Linked DNA regions of Homo sapiens. The protein of the gene in region 1 purifies or fractionates together with the protein of each later gene. This does not show direct contact. Each region holds a gene or a part of one and is shown on either strand. Other genes may lie near its edges.

What was found.
Region 2: the proteins of CDH5 (region 1) and ARVCF purify together in Homo sapiens (affinity purification with mass spectrometry; 2 studies listed by BioGRID and IntAct, with this or other methods). This does not show direct contact.
Region 3: the proteins of CDH5 (region 1) and CTNND1 purify together in Homo sapiens (affinity purification with western blotting; 4 studies listed by BioGRID and IntAct, with this or other methods). This does not show direct contact.

Annotation. Positions count from the first base shown.
Region 1 is NC_000016.10:66,397,255-66,404,789, reverse strand, and holds the end of CDH5 (cadherin-5 preproprotein), read right to left. Parts: intron 6,809-7,535; coding exon 6,684-6,808; intron 6,335-6,683; coding exon 6,229-6,334; intron 4,020-6,228; coding exon 3,774-4,019; intron 2,139-3,773; coding exon 1,621-2,138; 3' UTR 6-1,620; downstream 1-5. UniProt on the Homo sapiens protein: Cadherins are calcium-dependent cell adhesion proteins. They preferentially interact with themselves in a homophilic manner in connecting cells; cadherins may thus contribute to the sorting of heterogeneous cell types.
Region 2 is NC_000022.11:19,978,329-19,985,863, reverse strand, and holds part of ARVCF (splicing regulator ARVCF), read left to right. Parts: exon of another isoform or gene 1-2,191; intron 2,192-3,772; coding exon 3,773-3,931; intron 3,932-4,126; coding exon 4,127-4,653; intron 4,654-5,621; coding exon 5,622-6,121; intron 6,122-6,171; exon of another isoform or gene 6,172-6,472; intron 6,473-6,783; coding exon 6,784-6,967; intron 6,968-7,535. UniProt on the Homo sapiens protein: Contributes to the regulation of alternative splicing of pre-mRNAs.
Region 3 is NC_000011.10:57,792,762-57,800,296, forward strand, and holds part of CTNND1 (catenin delta-1), read left to right. Parts: intron 1-1,248; coding exon 1,249-1,320; intron 1,321-2,815; coding exon 2,816-2,968; intron 2,969-3,695; coding exon 3,696-4,231; intron 4,232-7,535. UniProt on the Homo sapiens protein: Key regulator of cell-cell adhesion that associates with and regulates the cell adhesion properties of both C-, E- and N-cadherins, being critical for their surface stability.

The sequences.
Region 1 (7,535 bases):
CTATGTTGCCCAGGCTAAAGATTTTTCTTTATTTAGGTATAAAAAAATACAGTACTTGTCATGCACCAGTTTGGCCAATATATAGACATTATCTGTAGAGCAATTACTACAATTATAGAAAATAGAAGGTTACAGGAATTGTTTTTCCAACTAAAAAACCTGAATTAATATTGTTAACCTAAATAACAACCTGCTTATTATGCAAAAACCCTTATTCTATATGTCTGTGAGAGCTAGAAACTTGTAAGTATCATTAGTAAAAAAATCATTATAAGAAGCTAGTTATTGGTTAAAACAAACAAGTCAGTGTTATCTACAATCCCTTGCAGTGTGAGGGGCTTTGCCCAGAGTGGGAACCTCGGTCCATGACGAAGGGTGAGCTTGGTGTCTCCTTCCCTGCCCCTCTCTGTTGACTGATGCCACTTCTCCAAGGTGTGTTTGCAGTGAAACGTTCCAGTGGAAGATGCATGGGTGACCACAGAGGTTGGGCAGGGCAGGGCCTTGCCTTCTGCAAGGTGTGCCTGAGGGTCAGTTCCCTGAGATGTGACAACAGCGAGGTGTAAAGACACATGGCTCGGCTCCGTCATGCAGTCATGAGTGGGTTTGGACATTGTCCAGTTTTGCTAAAGGCCACATCTTGGGTTCCTCTAAACCAAGGGATAAGGAGTAGACAGAGAAAAGAAAGAGAGCATGGATTGGCGACCAGGTGAGGCAGAGAAGGGGAGACGTCTTCTGCTCCGGGAACATCTGCCCCTTCTCAGGCAAAACTGGAGGGGTGCTGAGGAGTCTCAAAGCAAGGTCTCAGCTCTTCCAGGCCTTCTCCAGAGGGGGTGGGTGTGGAGGTGGCCCTCACCCTGTGATCTGTCACTCCTGATCTCCACTGCCCCTCCAGAATGAATTCACAGTTGCTTCAAAGTTTAATAAGCCATTTCCCTGAATGTGGTTCAGTGCTCAGTACAGCACAGTTACTGGCATGGCAGGCCAGTGAGGTCACTTCAGGACCCAAGGTCAGGAGCTGCCATGGGGCCCCTTCCTCCCTCTTGACAGGCCTGGAGAGGGGTTGGGGAGTGGTGGGGCACTTGGAGTGGAGTATGGAGTTGGAGCAGGGCTAGGGCTCCCGAGAGAGGGCATGATGGTCAGTCTCCCTTGGGAATGGGCTGCAGAGAATCCTGCCCCACAAGTCAAGCTGTCCAGGCCTTTGCCTCCAGGCAGATAGGCACCAGGACCTCACCAGCCTTACCAGGGCGTTCAGGGACCCTAGAAAAAGACCCTGCAGCAGTTAAACACAGTCTGTTTTGCTTTGCAGCCTTGGGGAGCCAGAGGAAGTCTTTGAGTTAGACGGCGGTCTGTGGGTGACAGGGTTATGTGGATGTCTGAGCCCAGACAGAACACCAGCCTGGATTTGCCAGCATTTGAGAATAGTCATCACTGACATATATTCCTGGATATTTCAGGAACCTGGAGTTTGCTATCCCAAGGCTGATGAGGTCTCTGGGACCCACGAGGAAGGGGTGCTGGGCTGGGGAGTCACTGCCATTTTTGGAGGCTGTGGTGCCTGGCGTCTGACTGGCCTGGGCTGCAGGGGGTTTGGGTCCCCAGGCCCAGAGTGACCTCGGCCGCCTAATACAGCAGCTCCTCCCGGGGGTCCGAGCCGTACAGCTCAGCCAGCATCTTAAACCTGGGTCCCCAGTCGTTAAGGAAGTCGTAATCCACGTCAGAGTCGGATGAGTCGGTGCCCAGGGAGCTGAGGGACTCGGCTATGGACTCGGAGCCCTCGTAGCCGTAGATGTGCAGCGTGTCGTAGGGGGGGCCGTCGCCGTCGTGGTCCGCCTCGTCCTTCTTCACCTCGATCATGGCTGCCATCTCCCCGGGCCCTCCGTGTGCCCCAGGCGCGTGCCTCGGTGGCTTCTGCACCTGCGCATAGAGGGAAGGCCGGGCGTCCAGCGCGGGCCGCGGGGGCTTGGCCCCGCCGCGGCGCACCGAGTTGAGCACCGACACATCGTAGCTGGTGGTGTCCATCTCGCCGCCGCCCTCCTCGTCGTAGGTGACCAGCTGCTCGTGGATCTCCGGCACGCTCTTGCCGTGCGCGCGGGCCTGCTTCCGGAGCCGCCGCCGCAGGAAGATGAGCAGGGTGATCACTGCAGCCAGGGAGCCGAGCAGCAGAGTCAGACAAGGCTGGGGGCCTGGGCGGCCCCCCATGCCCCCATCCCCACTGCCCCCTGCAACCCCACCCCCACGCCCTCCCAGCATGCCCATCCCTTTGGCCCCCCCTTCCCCTGCAACCCCATCCTTTTGGCCCCCCTTCCCCTGCAACCCCATCCCCGCCGTTCCCCCATACCCCCATCCCCGCCATCCCCCTACACCCCACACCCCGTCCCTGCCGCTCCCCCGCATACTCATCCCCACCTCGCCCGACACTCCCACCGCTGCCGTTCCCCCACACCCAGGGGCAGGTGCGGATGCTCAGCCTGTGGGAATCTCTGAGGGGTGTGGCTATGTGAGGGTCTTGGATCCCTAAGGAGGGGTAGACCTTGAAGTGCAGAGAGCTTCTAAAATTAGGCTCAGGCCTTCTAGCTTTGAGTTACTGAACAAACTACTATATACATAAGTAAAGCTGGGATGCCCTGGAAGGCAGCCCTGCCCCCCAGCCTCAGTTTCCTTGTCTGTAAAATGGAAATGATGACCTCCCTGCTCTGTTTATATTTGGGAGGATGGTTGTGAGGTCAAATGCAATTCTATTTGTGGTGGGGATGCCATCATCATCATTAATTATTAATAAAGGAGAAATCTCTGCTGGAGAAGTCCCAGAAGTCGGGCATACCGAGGCCACTCTCAGGAGGGCTACAGGCAGGAGAGGCCTGGAATCTGTATTGCAGGTGCCCCGTGGCTGTATCCAGGCCTTGCCGTGAGTGCCAGGGTGATCTCTAATCACCTGAGGGCTTCCTCTGGAGGATCAGCCCCTGCTGCGTCTCATGGCGAGTGAAATGCAGGATACAGTACATCACTGTGCTCCCCCGGTGGGATGATGCTGGGGGGTGGCCCCACGCTGCCTCCCGGCAACCCTATGGGAGGAGGCTCCAGTTCCTCACGATGGGAACATTCCACCTTCGCTGGCCTCCTCCCTTCCCAGCTTCACTCCCCCTCTGCCTTAGGAGGTATCCAGGGAAATAAACCACCTCCCAAATAAACCACTTCCACCCCAATCCTCATCCCAGGGCTGCTCCCTGGGAAATCCAAACTAAGGCCTACAATGCTCCTAAAATTTCTGAGGCCCAAACAAGAAAAAAAATATGTATCAAGGCCGGAGGAATTCTATAAAAAGAAAGAAAGCACGTGGAGACAATCTAAACTAGAAGTTTTTAAACTTTCCATTTTAGAACTGGATCCTTTTTCCTTTTTCAAAAATAGGTTTTATGTAAATACATGCCCAGAACAATGCCTGGCACTCAGTAAATGCTGAAAATATCTAAGTGGAAGGAGTGACTGTTATGTATAAGTTATTTTAAAGTGATACTGGCCTGATGCGTGGGGGAGGAGTCCTGAGTCCCACCCCCTCCTCCTCCCTGGCTCATCCCCCACCGTGAGCACCCAGGTGGTTGGAGCTCACATCCTGCATCCTGCACATGAACTGGCTAAGGGCTGCATTGCAGATTGGAGGCAGGGTTGGGCCTGAACCTCTGGCCTCTACTTTTCCTGTGAAGCCTCCCCGCCTCCCAACACCTTCCATCCCCTTCCACCCACTGTGTCTTCTCCCCACCCTGCCCAGCACTGACCTGTGATGGTGAGGATGCAGAGTAAGATGGCTACCACTGCCTGGATGCTCACGCCCACCTGGGCGGCCATATCCTCGCAGAAGGTGAACTCGCCCTGCTCGTTGCACTTGCACACGGCCACGGTCAGCGTGCTGGTGCCCGTGCGACTTGGCATCCCATTGTCTGAGATGACCACGGGTAGGAAGTGGACCTTGGTATGCTCCCGGTCAAACTGCCCATACTTGACTGTGATGTTGGCCGTGTTATCTGGAAACACCAAGGCCTCGGAGTCAGGCTTTGCCATCTGCACAGATGGGGAAACCTGGCTCCTCCAGGAAGCCCTCCCTGACTGCACCAGCCTGCGTGCTCCCTGGGCTGCTTTTCTGCCCTTTGCACCCAGCGCCTCTTGTTTCAGCCATCTGAGTGCAGGTCTGTTCCGCCACAGAGGGGATATTTTGGGGCAGCTGCTTTGACCCAATCTCCAAGGATGCCTTGGTGAAAGAAGGTCAAATCCTTTGCTTTCTGTATTTGTGGGCAACTGATGCCTCTCCCCTTCCTCTTCCCTAACCCCACTCCAGTAACAGGAGGTTTTCTCTTTCAGCTCAATTAATTAATGCTCCGTTTCAAGCTTTGACAAGCAGCGGGGAAAAATAAAGTTTTAAAAAGTCTTTTAGCATTAGGCTAATTTCTAAGGCAGCTTCTGCTCTCTCTGAAAATCCATTGTTACATTGTTGAAAACAGTAAAAACAATGGACATGTCCCTTGGGGCACAGAGAAAATGATTACATATAGAATTGCGGGTTTCCCAGGCAGTTTGGAACTGGGAAATGCTTTTGTCCAAATATTGGCCCCGCCCACCTTCCCAGATCCAATCAGTGGTTTCCTGTACCCAAGAATCCCCCAGGGAGCTTTTAAAACATGCTGATTTTCAGACCCCTATGCTCACACACACTTCTTATTCAGTGGTTCTGGGCAGAGGCCAGATAATCTGCCTTTTGCAGGGTCCCAGGAGGTTGTAATGTCAACGATCAGAGAAGGATCCAGGAACTCCCTACTCCAGGATTTACTTAGCTACACAGGCTCCACACACTGGATTGAAAAACCCAGGAATCCATCTTTTCGATTTTGAATGAAAGCCAATTATATTTCATTATTCATAATTACATTTCAGCATTAAGTCTATTATATTTCAAAATAAACTATATGTCATTGACACTTATGGGAGAAACTAGAGATTTTGACATGCAGGATGTTCATGATATAAGTGAATTTGACACCAACAGACTTGCCTCCTATTGTATATGGGTGTCTTTGGGGTGGCACTGAATCTTTCTACTGTATTGCAGATCCCCACTCTGAGATGGGACTGAGGTGGACATTGGGGAGGGGGTGACATTTTTGCCACATTATTTACTTCTAATGACAACTGGGTGTTGAATGGTCTGTCATTGACTGTCAACACATCAGGGCCACCTTCTCCATCCCACAGGAGTCTCCTTAAGGACTGGTCTGTGGTTGATCCCTCAAGTCTGCCTCCAACTTTCAGGGACCCCACTCCCCAGTCTTCCTTAAATGTAGTAATGGGCTGCTGCAATACAGCCATCCTCATCCACCATAGTTTTGCCCATTAGGGACAGGCAGGAATTCCATCCCATGCTAGGTGAAGGATCACTCTATTTAAACCCAAGGGGAATTTTCTCTATTTTTTTGAGGAAATTTCAGAGGCCATGGAAGCTTGCCTACTTGTGGCTGGAATGAAGTCAACTCAGCATCATCACTTAAGTCAGCACCTACTCCTCAGAAGCTCTGATTGGCTGCTAATGCCATCACACGGGCCACCCTGCTAATCGTGAGTAATCGTTGTAGCTGAATTAAAACAAAGCTCACTGGATCCTTGGGATTTAGGATTTCACATTTCCAGTTTTGACTCTTTGGGAATGACCTCAAAGTTCCATGTTTAATGTGCAGTTTTGCTGACCCATAGAGCCTCCAGTATGGGAGGGGACTCCTTGGCTAGTTCTTGAACTGAGCTGACTGCCTGCATCCTCACATCTGTTCTGTACTCCTCGCTGGCTCCTTGCAGGCGACGTGGACTTGGGAGTTTGGATGGAGTGTCTCTGACCATTGCATAGACCAATTGTACAATGTATGTGGCAGAAATTGTACAAAATATCTAATGATTTGAAAATCCCAGTGGGAGCCTGCCCTCAATTTGTTGGCCTGGTCTTTGACCTTGGTGCCTCAAGACTCAAATAACCTCACCCCGACCCTGTTAGAGCCAACTGACTGCATTTGTTCTTTTTTTGGAGACGGGGTCTCGCTCTGTCGCCCGGGCTGGAGTGCAGTGATGTGATCATAGCTCACTGCAGCCTCAAACTCCTGGGCTCAAGCGATCTTCCTGCCTCAGCCTCCTGAGTAGCTGAGACTACAGGTGTGGGTCATCACGCCCAGCTGAACTGATTACTTTGATGCCTACCGTGATTATCCGTGAGGGTAAAGTTGTTCTCAGTATTCAAGATGAATTTGAACTTCACGTTTCGTGGTGTTATGTCCTTGTCTATTGCGGAGATCTGCAGGACCAGCTGGAGTGTGGAAGACAGGAGATGGTCAGTGATGGTGGTGGGGTGGTGGGGTGGTCTGAGGTTTAGCGATGGAGCCTTTGGGTTTAAGTCCTGACCATGGCTGTTTCCCACCTGCAACACTCACCTATTTAGTTCTTCATAAAGCCATTCTTTCTACTTCCCTGCCCCGCCAATCTACTCCCCATATATTCCCTCTGAGCCTCAGTTTCTCCATCTGTAAAATGGGCATAATGTTATTTTCCTCAAGGCTATTGTACAGGGGAACTCCTGCTGACTCTGTTGAGCAGTTCTGCCCCCCAGCCTGCCCCAGGGTGGTGCTGCCTTCCCCTCCCACCTGAACCAGACTCACCTGGCCATGGACAGCGTTCTCACACACTTTGGGCTGGTAGGGCTTGGCAAACTCCGGGGCATTGTCATTCTCATCCAAAACTTCAATGTGGACTTGCACAATGGATTCTTTTCCTGTGGGGGTTCCTGCAGGGGAGAAGACTGTCACCATTATGGGCTCAGCTGATGCTGGCCTTGGGCGGTGGAAGATGTGTGGAAGGAGGGCTGCCCTATGGAGGCCACTTTTTGCAGGAGGAGGCTGTGGAACAGAGGCCCAGGATGGTGTTCTGGATAAAAGGAGTTTGGTGGGGGGAGGTGTTAAATCTCATCCATAAGGTTTACTGAGGTATTACTTTGATTATGAGAATCAAAAAGGTAAACCACCTAAGTGCATTAAAAAAATTGTAATTAAATTCCTAAAATTAAAAATTTAATTATTTGATTAAATACATAAAACATAATAAATTAATCATAAAAGAATTGAAAAGGTAAACAACCTAAGTGAGATTGGGTCAGTAAACTAGGCTACCGGAAAAGACTGAAATGGATGGCCACTGACAATGCCTATGTCACTTACATCTTAAACATATAATTAAAAAAAATTTTAAGGCCAGGTGCTGTGGCTCACCCCTGTAATTTCATACTTTGAAAGGCCTAGAAGGGAGGATTGCTTGGGGCCCAGAGTTGGAGACAAGCCTGGGAAACATGGTGAGACCCCATCTCTACAAAAAAAATTAAGACATTTGCTGGGCAATGTGGTGCACGCCTGTAGTCCCAGCTGCTCAGGAGGCTGAGGTGGGAGGATCATTTGAACTCAGGAATTAGAGGCTGCAGTGAGCTGTGATCGTGCCACTGCACTTCATCCTGGACAACA
Region 2 (7,535 bases), on another chromosome or scaffold:
CTCCTGCCCTCTGGGAGCCTGGCCTGCAGGTGTGGGATCCAGGTGTGCAATCTCACCTTAACTCATTCTCTGTGTGTGCTAGCCAGGCCTTGGACAGGGGAGGGGCCTGCCCCTGCAGTCTGTTCTTCAGGACACAGACCGTGGTGCATCTGTGAAGTCCGGTGGTTTGGGTAGATAAGTAATATGGGACCAGGGCCCAGCCACCTGTGCCCCAGCATCCCTCTGTGTGTTGGTCCAATCTTGCTTTTCTGCTCCCTGTGTTCCTTGCATTTTGCCACAAAAGTGAGACTGATGCTACCCAGCACGTCCCACGACCCCAGCCCCCTCTGTCCTTCTCACCTCCTTGTGAAGAAGCTGAGCCGAAGGTGCGTGATGGGGCCCAGAGCCCCTATGCTGGGCTCAGCCCTGTGTTCCCGGGACCCTCTTGTGAGCAGGGGTAGGTGGTCTACCTCCCTGGTCACTCTGGCCCCTCCCACAAGCCCAAGGGAGCTCATGGGAAACCCCAGGCCTGGGCAGCAGCCTGTTTCTGGGCCAGTCCTGGGGGCCCCAGACCTGGTGCACCAGAGATTGAAGAGCCAAGGGAGGGATGAGTGCTGGGAGGCCGGGCGGGGTGCAAGAGGAGCAAGGATGGGGCCCCAGCTGGGGAGGGGGTGATGAGAGACGACTGACAGGATGCAGCATGTGGGATTGGGCTGGAGGTGGGGTGTTCAGGGTAGAGCCCATGTCTAGGGTACAGAGGGGAGCAGCCCAGAGTTGGGTCTGAGGCAGAGGCTGTGTGGGGCTGCAGGGCCAGGGTCCCTGAGAGTGGGCCAGCCTGGGCAGGTGCACGTCAGACATGGACACTGGGGCCAGACAGGGATCCAGGGACTGCAGCCAACTCCTGTTGAGAGTCAGCCCACCATTCCACAGCCCCACCCTAAAGATGTTGCAGAGAGCTGAGCCACCAGCTGGCTATGGGCCTCTCACTACTCTACACCTCAGTTTCTCCATCTGCCAGCCAGCTCTGAGACTCCCAGAGTGGATGCTGGGCAGATGATTGGCAGAGTTGGTGGCCCCTGTCCCTGTGTGTTGAGACTCTGTGAGGCCCTGCATGGATAAGGGTCTCCGATACACGGTGGAGGACGGGAGGATGTGTGCTCACGAGTGTGCCTCTGGGAACAGTGGGCGCCGTGCCCTTGGGGTGCTGTTAGAGCACACGGGTTGATGTGCTCGGCCTGTGCCGGGCTGGGTACTTGCACACGTGTATGTACATGCATGTGTCCCTGTCTGAGGGGTCATGTATATGCATGTGTGTGTGCCTGGGCATGTGTAGCAGGGGCCGGGCTTTCCTGTGATCACTGGCTGACTCATGCACCTGCCACCCGGGTGAAGTCATCCCTCGTTTTTAGCTCCCTGAGGTCATTTGCCAGCAGGGACTCTTGGGGCCTCTGGATCCTACTGCGGGGCTGCTAGGCCGGGGCTGATGGGTGGTGCCGCAGGGTTGCCAGGTCTTGCTGCGGGGGCGTGGCTCTCCTGGACCACCCCAGCTCTGCCTGTCAGACCCTCACCACAGCCTTGGTGGGAGGGATAAGCTGGGCCACAGAGTGGCATCGGGGTCCTGAGATGTCCTCCCCTTTTCCTCTCCCGCTTACCCCCACTGCCTAGCTAGGGAAGAGGGGGTTTTTCTCTGAGTTTTTAATAGATGTAAATATATACATATATGAGGGGCTACATCCCACTGGCAGAGTCCTGGGTAACGTTTCCTCAGTCTTGCTTTATACCCTCCTCACTCTGTCGCCAGAACTGCAGCCCCTCAGTGCCTGGGCCCCTGCTTGAACTCAGATGAGCCCCGCCCAGGGCCCAGCAGAGAGAGCTCAGGGCCTGACACACATTTGCCAGATACAGATGGGGCAGCCCAGCCCCAGCAGTGATGGGCCACACAAGCCTTCTCCTGCTTCAGAGCAGTCCCAGCTCCCCAGTGCCTTTGGAGAAGAGCCCAGCCTGCCCTGCCTGGCAGCGTGCCAGTTGTCCCCACTCTAGGCCTCAGTCTATTTCTTTTTCCCAGGGAACAGGTCCCCTTTTCCTAGCCAGGTCCACAGCAGGCATTCCACCTACATCTCAAGACTGAGGGCGAGATGAGGCCCAAAGCCTTCCTTGCCAGATTGCCTTCTCTGGGGGTGCTTGAAATCCCACTTGGACTGTGAAGTTCTAGGTAAATCCTCTTCCCCCTGCCAGGCCTCAGTTTCCCCATCTATAAAGTTATCTGTCATCCTCCAAGACCCTGCCTGTGGGAGAGGGGGAGGTGCCTTCTGTGGCCACTTCTTTCCTCTGTCAGCCTGAGGGATACACCTGTCCTAACATGTTGGTGCAGGCCCCTTCCTGGACACCTGCACTGCATGCATTTGGGGGTCAAGTATTCCCCCAGGATAGGACCCTGACCTGGGGAGGCTTCCCAGCCCACGAGCCTTGGCAGGCAGGTCCTGAGGGCAGCGCTGAGCATCTAACCTGGCTCACCTCCCAGGCCCAAGAATGGGCAGAGTCTGCCTCTGGAGCCTGGCAGAGCTTAGTGTCTGTGCAGGCCCCAGGGGGCCCAGGCAAGGGACCCATTGTGCAGGGACCAGGGGCCTGGGCCACAAAGCAGGACCTGTCCTCCTGCTGACCCTGCCCTGGCTGCCTGGGAATGTGCTCCGCCTGACCCACCCACCAGGGCTTGGGTTTCAGCTCCTGCCCATCCTGGCTAGATGCCGATCCCCGGATGTTGGTGCCATGTGGCCCTGGGGCCAGGCACCTGTGCAGTCAGAGGCCCGGGGCAGGCTGTGAGTCTTAGGTCCTCAAGCCACTCAGCGCGGCAGGGGTTGGGCCTGGCTCTGATGTGGGCCAGCCTATCCTCTTTGAGCCTCAGTTTCCCCACTGGCAAGTCCAGTCAGTAGGCATGTGGATAGAAAAGTCTCAGTCCAGAGTTGTCTTGCCTAGAATTCCAGTGTCGTCACCCCATGCAGAATGGTGGCAAGGGCACCCATAGGCTCAAATCTACTGTGTCTGGTCTCTGATATGATGCCCAGAGTCTCAGTCACTGGGGGCGCCAGCCACTGGCCCGAGGTAGGGCAAACCTGTGCCTACACAACACTCAAGAATGTCTGGGCTGGAAGGAATAAGGACATACTGGTGCTGCAGGTGCATGGGGTGTTCTGGGAACTGCGTATTTCTGTCCCTTGAGGGCGTCTGGCTGGCGTTGGTGGCGGGAACCTTAGTGTGGCCACAGGAGTCAGTAGGCAGTGCTGAAACAGCCCCCACAAGGCTTCTATACTCAAGGTGTCTGGGGCAGGTGAGGGAGGAGGCCCCAGGACACCATGATGTCCCAGCTAGGGGTGGTGGTTGACATCAGGAAGGCATGCTGCAGGTCTCACTGGCACCTCCTGGGGCCTGGAGGAGCCTGTGGCAGCCAGGCCATGCAGCTTGGGGAGGGCCCTGAAGACTTCACCCCCCAGGGTCTATGTCCTTATCTGCCAACTCAGCCTGAGGAGACCTGAGATGGGGGTCCAGCCCCAGGGTCCCCCCAGGATGGGGTGCCGGGGCAGGGTTAGCACCTCGATGTTCAGAGGGCAAGAACTTATTGCTGTCCTTGTCAGCTTGGGCCGAAACAGGCCTTGGGGTGGGTGGGTTCAGGACCAGGAGGAAGGCACCCTGGTGTGCTGGCCAGCATGAGCTGAGGCAGAGCTGCTGTGTGTGGAGACCTGCACTCCAGGGGTGACTGAGCAGCAGGCCTGCCCACCAATGTCCCTCCTTGCCCCAGGAGCAGAGCCCAGGCAGCCAGGCCTCACTGGCCACGATGCCGGAGGCACCTGATGTGCTGGAGGAGACCGTGACGGTGGAGGAGGACCCCGGCACACCCACTTCCCATGTGTCTATTGTCACATCCGAAGATGGCACAACCCGGCGCACCGAGACCAAGGTATGGCCAGGCCCAGGCAGTGGGTGGGTGAGCAGGGCCAGGCTGCTGCAGCTGTCCCACCTGCAGAGTGGACATGGAAGCTTGCCACGTGGGGCCTCTCATTGCTCGAGTGGGAAATTAAGGCCAGCCAGACCCCAGCAAAGCAGTTTCTAGGCCTCTCGTGCTACCCCACCTACCTGCCTATCCATCCACCAGGTCACCAAGACTGTCAAGACGGTGACCACTCGGACAGTACGCCAGGTGCCCGTGGGCCCAGATGGACTCCCCCTGCTGGATGGCGGCCCCCCACTAGGCCCTTTTGCAGATGGTGCCCTGGACCGGCATTTCCTGCTGCGTGGTGGTGGCCCAGTGGCCACACTCTCTCGAGCCTACCTCAGCAGTGGGGGTGGCTTTCCCGAAGGCCCCGAGCCCCGGGACAGCCCCAGCTATGGCAGCCTGTCCCGAGGGCTGGGCATGCGGCCCCCACGTGCTGGCCCCCTTGGCCCAGGCCCTGGTGATGGCTGCTTCACACTGCCTGGCCACCGGGAAGCCTTCCCGGTGGGTCCTGAGCCTGGGCCACCAGGTGGCCGCTCCCTGCCCGAGCGCTTCCAGGCAGAGCCGTATGGCTTGGAGGATGACACGCGCAGCCTGGCCGCTGATGACGAGGGTGGCCCTGAGCTGGAGCCTGACTATGGCACGGCCACAAGGAGGAGGCCTGAGTGTGGGCGGGGCCTTCATACCAGGTGAGCTGCACCCCGTCCCCTGTGGCTACCTCCTCTGGGAAGTCTGCCCTCCACCCCCCAACTACAGAGTGCCCCACTTGTCAAGTGGCGCAGTTGAGTTAGTCATGCATGTTAGTTTGAATTGGCCTTGGCTCTCGTCAGGGACAGAAGAAAGGTGGACCCTGGGGTGGTAGGAGTTCGGCTGGGCACTGTCCTGCAGGCCCAGGGCCCAGGAAAGCTGGGAAGAGTGCCGGCCACTGGCCTTGCTCCAGCCACACTCTGGGTAACCAGAACCCAGAGCCCTGGCCCTTGTCACAGCCCCTGGTTCTGTCCCCATTGCCCTCAGTTTCTGCATCTCTGGAGTGGGGATGTGACCACAGCCCGGGTCAGGATTTTGTTGTGTGACCCTGGCCAAGTCACCTGACCGTCACTCCTAGCCTCAGGGCAGGCGGTTTGATGACAGCAACCCACAGGGCTACTGAGAGCTAAGGAGATCTTGTGCCCCAAGGGGCTGGTGGCCTGAATACTCCTCAGGTGGTCCTACTGGGATGGCTTCATGCGGAGAGGGCCATTTACTCCCCCTACATCCTGGCACAGCCAGAGATGGGCCTCATGGAAGATGGGGTGGTTTTGTGGAAGGGAGGTGAGACGGTCTCTCCAGCAGCCATAGCAGATGTCTCACAGAAACTTGTTTTGCTCGGGATTGGGAAACTGCCCGGTGACAGCAGTGAGTGAGTTTGCTGTCCTGGGAGGGTTGCCTGGGTCCTGGTAGCCGCTGGCTGGGGTTTGGCATTTGGCTCTGAATTGGTTCTCACTGGGCTGGTGCATGACTCTCTGTGTCCCCACCATGCTCCGGGCCAAGATACAGGTGCTCTCAGCCCAGCGCTGCTGGGTGAGTTTGCAGTCCTGAAGAAGGTGTGATGGGGCAGCTCAGAGGCAGGGCTGGCGGCTGCTGTGACGATGTCCACGCGCCCCACTTGCCTGTGCAGGGCCTACGAGGACACAGCAGATGATGGCGGCGAGCTGGCGGACGAGCGGCCTGCGTTCCCAATGGTGACGGCGCCCCTGGCCCAGCCTGAACGGGGCAGCATGGGCAGCCTGGACCGGCTGGTGCGGCGCTCGCCCTCAGTGGATAGCGCCCGCAAGGAGCCGCGCTGGCGGGACCCTGAGCTGCCTGAGGTGCTGGCCATGCTGCGGCACCCCGTGGACCCCGTGAAGGCCAATGCGGCCGCCTACCTGCAGCATCTGTGCTTTGAGAACGAGGGTGTCAAGCGGCGTGTACGGCAGTTGCGGGGGCTGCCGCTGCTTGTGGCACTGCTGGACCACCCGCGGGCTGAGGTGCGGCGCCGGGCCTGTGGGGCACTGCGCAACCTCTCCTATGGCCGCGACACTGACAACAAGGCCGCCATCCGGGACTGCGGTGGTGTGCCTGCCCTGGTGCGCCTGCTGAGGGCTGCCCGGGACAACGAGGTCCGTGAGCTTGTCACTGGTGAGTGGGACCTGGCCATGCTCACATCCCCTGGGAAGAGAAGAGTGTGAGGCTCAACCCGGGAGGAACGAGGCCACTCGGCCTGCGACCGCCTGGGAAAGCACCCGGTAGGCAGGAGTGCAGCTGCTGAGACGCTTGCCCCAGGAGCCAGGCATCAGGCCCAGACACTGTGACAGGTTCCCCAGTCTCTACCATAGCAGGGAGGCTGACGCTGCGCCCCTCGGGCATGTCCCCTCACCTCCTGCCTTCACACCTCCTGCCCCCACAGAAACTCTCCTGGGACCCACCTCCTTGGTTCCCACCCCAACCGTGCAGTGGTGGGGCTTGTGCCTTGTGAGAGCTGAGGGACAGGTAGGGTCACCGTGTCTCTGTGAGGCCCTGTGGCCTCAGGAGTGTTAGTGCCACCTGCCACATGGCAGGGAATGGGTGGGACGGGACAGCACTGCCACACCCTCCTCTGCACCTCCTCCCCTTTGGGGCTCCTTCCTAGCTGGAAACCAGTACTGGGTGTCCCCCGGAACCACTCACGGCTTTTGTTACTTCCTACTGTTCTGCATGAGCTGGGACATGAGGAGAGTGGGACAGGTCCTGAGCGTGGCCACCTGGGGAGGTAGGCAGGCGGTGCATATGGTCAGCACAGATTGGCCAATCGCACCCCACAGGCACCCTGTGGAACCTGTCATCCTATGAGCCCCTGAAGATGGTCATCATTGACCATGGCCTGCAGACGCTGACCCACGAGGTGATCGTGCCCCACTCAGGATGGGAGCGTGAGCCCAACGAGGACTCCAAGCCACGGGACGCCGAGTGGACAACTGTCTTCAAGAACACGTCGGGCTGCCTGAGGTGTGGACCAGACCTGGTGCTAAAGCCCACATGCACACCAGGCCCCGTCCTCGTGGTCCCAGATAGTGTGGAAGATGGCGGCGAGCTTAGGAGCGCCAGAGCTTAGGAGCTTCAGAGCTGTGGCACAAGTCCTGTGGATGAGAAGTGGGGCCTGATGGAGCTGTCCTCACCCCCAAGTGGTGTCCCAGTCTTCCCAGGGGCACCCTCTGGAGGGGTCTCTGTGGTACCGTAGCCCTGCCCAGCTCTCACCTACCTTCCCATCACTTGACAGCCAGAGGGGGAGCTGGGACCTTCCTGTTCATCTGCCTGGGAGGCTCATCCCAGCCACCTGTGACCTCTGCCCTTCCCCTCCTACCCCTGGGAGGCCCTGCTGACCCCACAGAGTCCTGGGTCCCCACAGTCCTGCTTGTCCATCAGGGTGTTCCCGCGCAGCCCTGCAGGCTCTTGACCTTGGGGTAAGGTGGGGCCCAGAGCTGCCATTGGGGTGGCGAGGGACCCAGAATTGCCCTTGCACAGGTTCAGGTCTCTCTGAGAGTGCACCTGTCCCTTTCCAGGTCAGCTGGGAGGC
Region 3 (7,535 bases), on another chromosome or scaffold:
CTCGTGATCCACCTGCCTCGGCCTCCCAAAGTACTGGGATTACGCGTGAGCTACTGCACCCGGCTGAGTGATTTTTTTTTTTTTTTTTTTAAGATAGAGAAAGTCCCTCATACTGAGGAGCCTTGCAGTTGAGAGAGAACAGAATTCCAGTTGGAGGATCAAGGAATTTGAGGGAGGCAGCATGCTTGCAGTGTTCCTAGGATTTTTACAGGAACTACAATAGAAAGTTAGGGATGAAATTATATTGAAAGGAGAAAGCTGGACTGCTCAGGTTTGGAGGTCATGGGGAATTCCAGGATTCAGTATGTGGTTGCTCTCTTATTTTTAACTTCTGCTTAGCAGTAAAACCACACCCTTCCTTCTTCCTGAAAGTAATGTTTAACTTCCTCTCCCTGCAGCATTACACTCTATGTAATGGGAGTGGGGTGGAGGAAGAGTCTCCCAAGGTGGTTGGATCTCACTATTCTACTGGAAGAGGAGCAGGCAAATATATTTTTATGTGGTATAATGTCATTAGATTATTTCCTGCTGCTTAAGACAGAGCAACTTCTGGATGACATTTTGGAATGTATTCTGTGGCTCTAATAATTGTTGGTAAAGATATTGAGCCTTCTGTTTTCTTGAGGGGAGTTGGGGTGCTTGTTTTTGTACTTGGAAAGGGAGACTCGTATCTCTTGCTTTTTTCTTTAATTAAATTTCTGTTTTTTACATTAGGACATGATAGCCATCTTGCTTCTTTCTTTAAAAAGCTGCCTGGAATGGGAGTTTCCAGTGGTAGTACTGCATGAAGATTCATGAGACTATAAAGCTCTTTGGAAACCCCCCAACTTAGCCCTTCCAACTTTCCTTACATTTTTATGGCTTTCCAAAAAGGTTGCATGTAAGGGAAATTATCTAGGTCTGTGCTGTTTATTCAGCAAATAGTTTTTGAGCACCTGTTATGTGCCAGGCACTGTTCAAGGCACTAGACTAAACTAAACTTATCCCAAAAAACCCTCTGCCCTCGTGGAGTTTACGTTCTTATGTTCCAGAGACCCTGTCTGCCAGAGTTCCAGGCCTGATTTTCAATTTTGAGGAAAGTGCTAAGACTAAAGAGTGAATGGTTCTTTTATGAGTACTGACACAAGGACTCCAGGCCACACATATCTTCTTGAAAGCCCTTTTCCTGTTTGAAAAAAAGATCGTTTGTATTTGATAGAGCAAAAGAAGGCCACAAAATGAATTGTCTTCTTGTGGGCTGTGTTTCAGAACGGCCGGTTTGTGGGCGATGCTGACCTTGAAAGACAGAAATTTTCAGATTTGAAACTCAACGGACCCCAGGTAATTCTTTGGCTCAAGACCTGGGTTGCTTCATTCATATTTTCTTATTTCCCCAGCCTATAAGAGCATATTTGTGTCTTGTAAGGTGCCTGGCACATTGTACATACTCGTCAATTAGTTTCTTTTATTTACGAAAACAAAGAAGTGGAGCTCCAAAGTATATATGCAGTTTTGTTTTGGAATGAATTTTAATGACCATTGATCTTTATGACTATTCCTCCTCCCCACTGCCACCCCATTTGATCCCTAAGTACTGCGTTTCTTTTCTAGAGACAGTAGGCTTCTACTTTGCAGCAAAAAACCCTACCTAAAATCTGGCTGGTCTTGAGCCTTTTAGACGGTATCTGAAGAGTAACATAAAGCCAGTCAAAAGATGGCTCTTACTGGGATTTTCAGGTTTGTCTTAAAAGTTCTTTATTTTTGGCCAGGCATGGTGGCTCATGCCTGTAATCCCAGCACTTTGGGAGGCTGAGGTGGGCAGATCACCTCAGGTCGGGAGTTGGAGACCAGCCTGACCAACATGGAGAAACCCCGTCTCTACTGAAAATACAAAATTAGTCAGGCGTGGTGGCACATGCCTGTAATCCCAGCTACTCGGGAGGCTGAGGCAGGAGAATTGCTTGAAACCAGGTGGCGGAGATTGTGGTGAGCTGAGATCATGCCATTGTACTCCAGCCTGGGCAACAAGAGCAAAACTCTGTCTCAAAAAAAAAAAAAAAGTTCTTTATTTTAGACTGGGCACGGTGTCTCATGCCTGTAATCCAACACTTTGGGAGGCCAAGGCAGAGCAAAACTCCGTCTCAAAAAAAAAAAAAAAACAAAGTTCTTTATTTTGGCCAGGCGTGGTTTGCTCATTCCTGTAATTCCAGCACTTTGGGAGGCTGAGGCTGGAGGATTGCTTGAGCCCAGGAGTTCAAGACCAGCCTGGGCAACATAGACCCTGTCTCTACAAAAAAAATAAAATTAGCCAGGCATGGTGGCGTGAGCCTGTAGTTCTAGCTACTCAGGAGGCTGAAATGGCAAGATTGCTTGAGCCTGGGAGGTTGGGGCTCCAGTGAGCTATGATCATGCCACTGCACTCTAGCTTGGGTGATAGAGTGAGACCCTATCTCAAGTAAATAAATACAAGTTATTTATTTATTGGGTGAGCTGCTCTTTTGAGGGATCACTCAGATATAGATGAAACTGCATTTAACACAGTTCATGTTCACTTAGATGACCACAGCTGGGAAGTTAAATCTACTGTCTGTCACTTGGATGTTGATGTGGCTATAGTTAGTTCATGTTTGTTAAATGACTACAACTGGGAAATTATGTCTACTGTCCTTTTGTACAAGTTCAAAAGATGACAGCCACCCATCTAAAAATCCTGAGGCCTATAGAAGATGCATGAGGAGTCCCTGTCTCCAGGTTTACCACTTATGCTTCTTATTAGGATGGCTTGTTATACATAGCACTTAATAGTAGTTTCTTCTCTTTTCTCTTTTGCATATAGGATCACAGTCACCTTCTATATAGCACCATCCCCAGGATGCAGGAGCCGGGGCAGATTGTGGAGACCTACACGGAGGAGGATCCTGAGGGAGCCATGTCTGTAGTCTCTGTGGAGACCTCAGATGATGGGACCACTCGGCGCACAGAGACCACGGTAAACTAAGACGTGTGTAAGATCTGGAAGTGATAAGAGGTCTTTTCTTCTCTATTAGGGGAGGGGTTAAGCACTTAATTAAGATGGAGGACTGATATGCCATTATTGATCTGATTGCATGAAGTGATCTCTGGCCAGATAGAAAGGATGAAGAGATGGGAAAATCTTATGGGATAGGGAAGACAGAAGGTATATCAGGGTCTATAGTAGCTTCCCTTATAAGCATAGTTACTGTCAGGGCAATTTTCCTGCTTGGGGACTTCCTATAGGATGGAAAGAAAGATAGATGGTAGGCTTTAAGGCATTCCTAGGTAAAGTGACCTAGGGATATAAAGATTTGTTTCTTTTGGAGTGGTATAGAATTTAATTGTTCATGGCTGGGCGCGGTGGGTCACGCTTGTAATCCCAGCCCTGTGGGAGGCTGAGGTGGGCGGATCACGAGGTCAGGAGTTTGAGACCAGTCTGGGCAACATAGTGAAACCCCGTCTCTACTAAAAATACAAAAAATTAGCCAGGTGTGGTGGTGTGTGCCTGTAATACCAGCTACTCGGGAGGCTGAGGCAGGAGAATTGCGTGAACCTGGGAGGCAGAGGTTGCAGGTGAGCCGAGATCACGCCATTGCACTCCAGCCAGGGCAACAGTGCAAGACTCCATCTCAAAAAAAAAAAAAGAATTTAATTGCTCACTTCCTTAATTAGTTTTTCTTTTTCTTGTTTCCTACTTGCAGGTCAAGAAAGTAGTGAAGACTGTGACAACACGGACAGTACAGCCAGTCGCTATGGGACCAGACGGGTTGCCTGTGGATGCTTCATCAGTTTCTAACAACTATATCCAGACTTTGGGTCGTGATTTCCGCAAGAATGGCAATGGGGGACCTGGTCCCTATGTGGGGCAAGCTGGCACTGCTACCCTTCCTAGGAACTTCCACTACCCTCCTGATGGTTATAGTCGCCACTATGAAGATGGTTATCCAGGTGGCAGTGATAACTATGGCAGTCTGTCCCGGGTGACCCGCATTGAGGAGCGGTATAGGCCCAGCATGGAAGGCTACCGGGCACCTAGTAGACAGGATGTGTATGGGCCCCAACCCCAGGTTCGGGTAGGTGGGAGCAGCGTGGATCTGCATCGCTTTCATCCAGAGCCTTATGGGCTAGAGGATGACCAGCGTAGTATGGGCTATGATGACCTGGATTATGGTATGATGTCTGATTATGGCACTGCCCGTCGGACTGGGACACCCTCTGACCCTCGTCGGCGCCTCAGGTAGGCAAGAATAGGGGAAGAGAAAAGGGTCTTTCCAAGACCAGGGACAAGGGGTAGCTTTTCCTTCAACTTCTAGGGGCTTTTTGGGATCAGAGATACTCGTGGCCTCCTCCCCTCTGCTTTTTTTTGGGGTGAAAAGCTACCCTGTTTTTCCCTTTTCTGACTTGGCTTAGTATTGACTTGCTATATATATATAATATAAATATATATATAATTTTTTAAATGAAAATAATATAATTTTATTTTTTATTTTTTTGAGACAGAGTCTTGCTCTTTCACCCATGCTGGAGTACAGGGGTGCCATCTTGGCTCACTGCCACCTCCGCCTCCTGGGTTCAAGTGATTCTCATGCCTCAGCCTCCCTAGTAGTTGGGACTACAGGCAAGCACCATCACGCCTGGCTAATTTTTATATTTTTAGTAGAGATGGGGTTTCACCATGTTGGCCAGGCTGGTCTCAAACTCCCGACCTCTGGTGATCCACCCGCCTTGGCCTCCAAAAGTGCTGGGATTACAGGCGTGAGCCACCGCGCCTGGTCCACAAGTTGTTTTCTATAATTGAATATATGGGCCAGGCGCGGTGGCTCACGCCTGTAATCCCAGCGCTTTTGGAGACTGAGGTGGGTGGATCACCTGAGGTCCGGAGTTCAAGACCAGCCTGACCAACATGGAGAAACCCCGCCTCTACTAAAAATACAAAATTAGCTGGGCGTAGTGGTGCATGCCTGTAATCTCAGCTACTCGGGAGGCTGAGGCAGGAGAATCATATGAACCCGGGAGGCAGAGGTTGTGGTGAGCCAAGATCATGCCATTGCACTCCAGCCTGGGCAACAAGAGCGAAACTCCACCTCAAAAAAAAAAAAAAAAAAAAACAACTTGTGATTGTTATTAGTCTGTGTCCTGAAGAATGAACTTTGCTTCTGCTTCTATGCTGAAGTTTTTGCTGTTTCTGGCTAAGATGTGACCCCCTTTTGGTGTGTTAGGCAGAGGATTCTGATGTCTGGGGCCATGGAATTCTTGCTCACTTCTTCCTGGGAATTTCTTTAGTTTCTGATTTGGTATTAAGAACAGAGTCCATTGGGCACGGTGTCTCACGCTTGTAATCCCAGCACTTTGGGAGGCCGAGTTGGGCGGATCACGAGGTCAGGAGATCGAGATCATCCTGGCTAACACGGTGAAACCCTGTCTCTACTAAAAATACAAAAATTAGCCGGGTGTTGTGGCTCGTGCCTGTAGTCTCAGCTACTCAGGAGGCTGAGGCAGGAGAATCACTTGAACCCGGGTGGCAGAGGCTGTAGTGAGCCGAGATCCCGCCACTGCACTCCAGCCTGGGTGACATAGTGAGACTGTCTCAAAAAAAAAAAAAAAAAAGCCAAAAAAACCCCAAAACAAAACATAGTTGAGGGTTTTAGGAATTCAGAACCAAAAGAGACAGTTGAGGACGTGTATAAGAACTTTCTTGTGTTTTTAATCCCAAAGTTAAAAACAAACTTTGACCTCACAAGGGCCTTGACATTCTATGCTTAGGGTCTTATTATTTGATTGTAAAGTGAAATTGTGGTGGCATCCTTGGGTGGGGGTCGGGGGATACATTAGCAACACTCTGAAAGGTCACTAAGCAGCTGCCTACTCTGACTTTACTACTTGTTCCTGGAGATTCTTTGGTGATGTGAAAAAAGGAGTGATTGATGTTTGGACTGGTACATGGTTTGCCTTGTTGCATTGAGAGAATGCTTTAGAATGGGGTCGACAGACCCCTGAAAATGACCACGTAGAACTATTTTAGGCTTTGCAGGCCATGTATCATCTTTGTCGTATGTTGTTCTTTTTTTCAAACAATCTTTTAAAAATAGCATTATGGGGATGTACAAAAACAGGTTTGGCCCATGGGCTGCCAATGCTGCTTCAGAATAAATTAGAAACAGTGTTTTCCAGGTAAAGAGAAATGATAAGAAACAAGGGATGATTTATGGTTGTCTTGATGGTAAGGATATCCTAGCAGCTGTTGCTGAATTTCTCTATATGGGGTCATGACCTTTTAAAGCAAATGCCTTGGTGCTCATTTTCCTCATATATTAGGTAGCTTTGGTTAAGAGTGAACAGGGCTGGGCCCAGGGGTAGAGGCCCCATTATCTAAGACTGAGTCACTCACCTTTCAGGTGTCTTGGATAGCTAATCCAACTCCCATGTGACTCATTTTTATTCCTACAGGAGCACCAGACCTCGGCTGGTGCAACCTAGAGCAGTGGTAGATAACAGCCTTCATTGAAGCAGTCTGTCCAGGGTGTTGGCTCTACTGCAAGTCTGCTTTTTCTGACTTCCTCATTAGTAAAGAGTGATTGGACCCAGATGGGTGTGGGTGGCCAGGTCATTCTCTGCCATCCCTAGTTGTGCTAGTTCACATAGAGTTTTGGGCCTGGTTCTTGGGTTTGTTCCAGGGTAGCACTGGACTTGGAAACCTGCTTGACTAGCAAGCATATTTGCTGCTTCCTGTTCCAGGCTAGAAGAGTAATACAAGGTCAAACTTAAACAGTGAGGCAGTGATTAGTGGAAAAAGCACTGAACCCTGAGACCTTGGTTCTAGTTGTGCCTTTGCCACTAGCTAAGTAGCCTCAAGCAAGTCATTTGGTCTTCCCAGGCACAGCTTTGTTTCTTGTAAAACAAAGGAAAGAATGTCCAATCCACTGCCTTTGTATAGAAAAGGATATAGGATAGAGTTATCTGGAAATTTTGGTTATGGTAATTGTTCTTATAATTTTGTATATTAATAATAGAGGTTAAACATGTTCAATACAGAGCCTGAAAAACCCAGAAAAGCATTACCATCTATTGATAAAGAACCACTGTTAACATTTTGGTGCATATCCTTTGAGTTTTTTTAATTATACATGTAACTATATCCTATTTTCCCTCTACTAAAATGGAATCTTAACATACTGCTTAATAGCCTACTTTTAAGCTATCTAAGCTATTCATTTTGTTTCCGTGTTTTTTTTTTTTTTTTTTTTTTTTTTGAGATGGAGTCTTGCTCTGTCACCCAGGCTGGAGAGCAGTGGTGCGATCTGGTATTATACCCAGGAGGCTTTTTGTTCCATGCATGGTATTTTATAATGTTAGTAAATACTTTTCCTTAATTTTATAGTAAGCAGAAAATTTTTATGGTTGGGGTGGATGCAAAAGTGATACATAATAGTTTAGAAGACAACCAATTTTGTTTTACCAGCTGTTTGGGCATTTTTAGTACCCCCTTCTTGATTTGAAGGGTTTAATCTTGACCTTTTTTTTTTTTTCTTCGAAATAGAGTC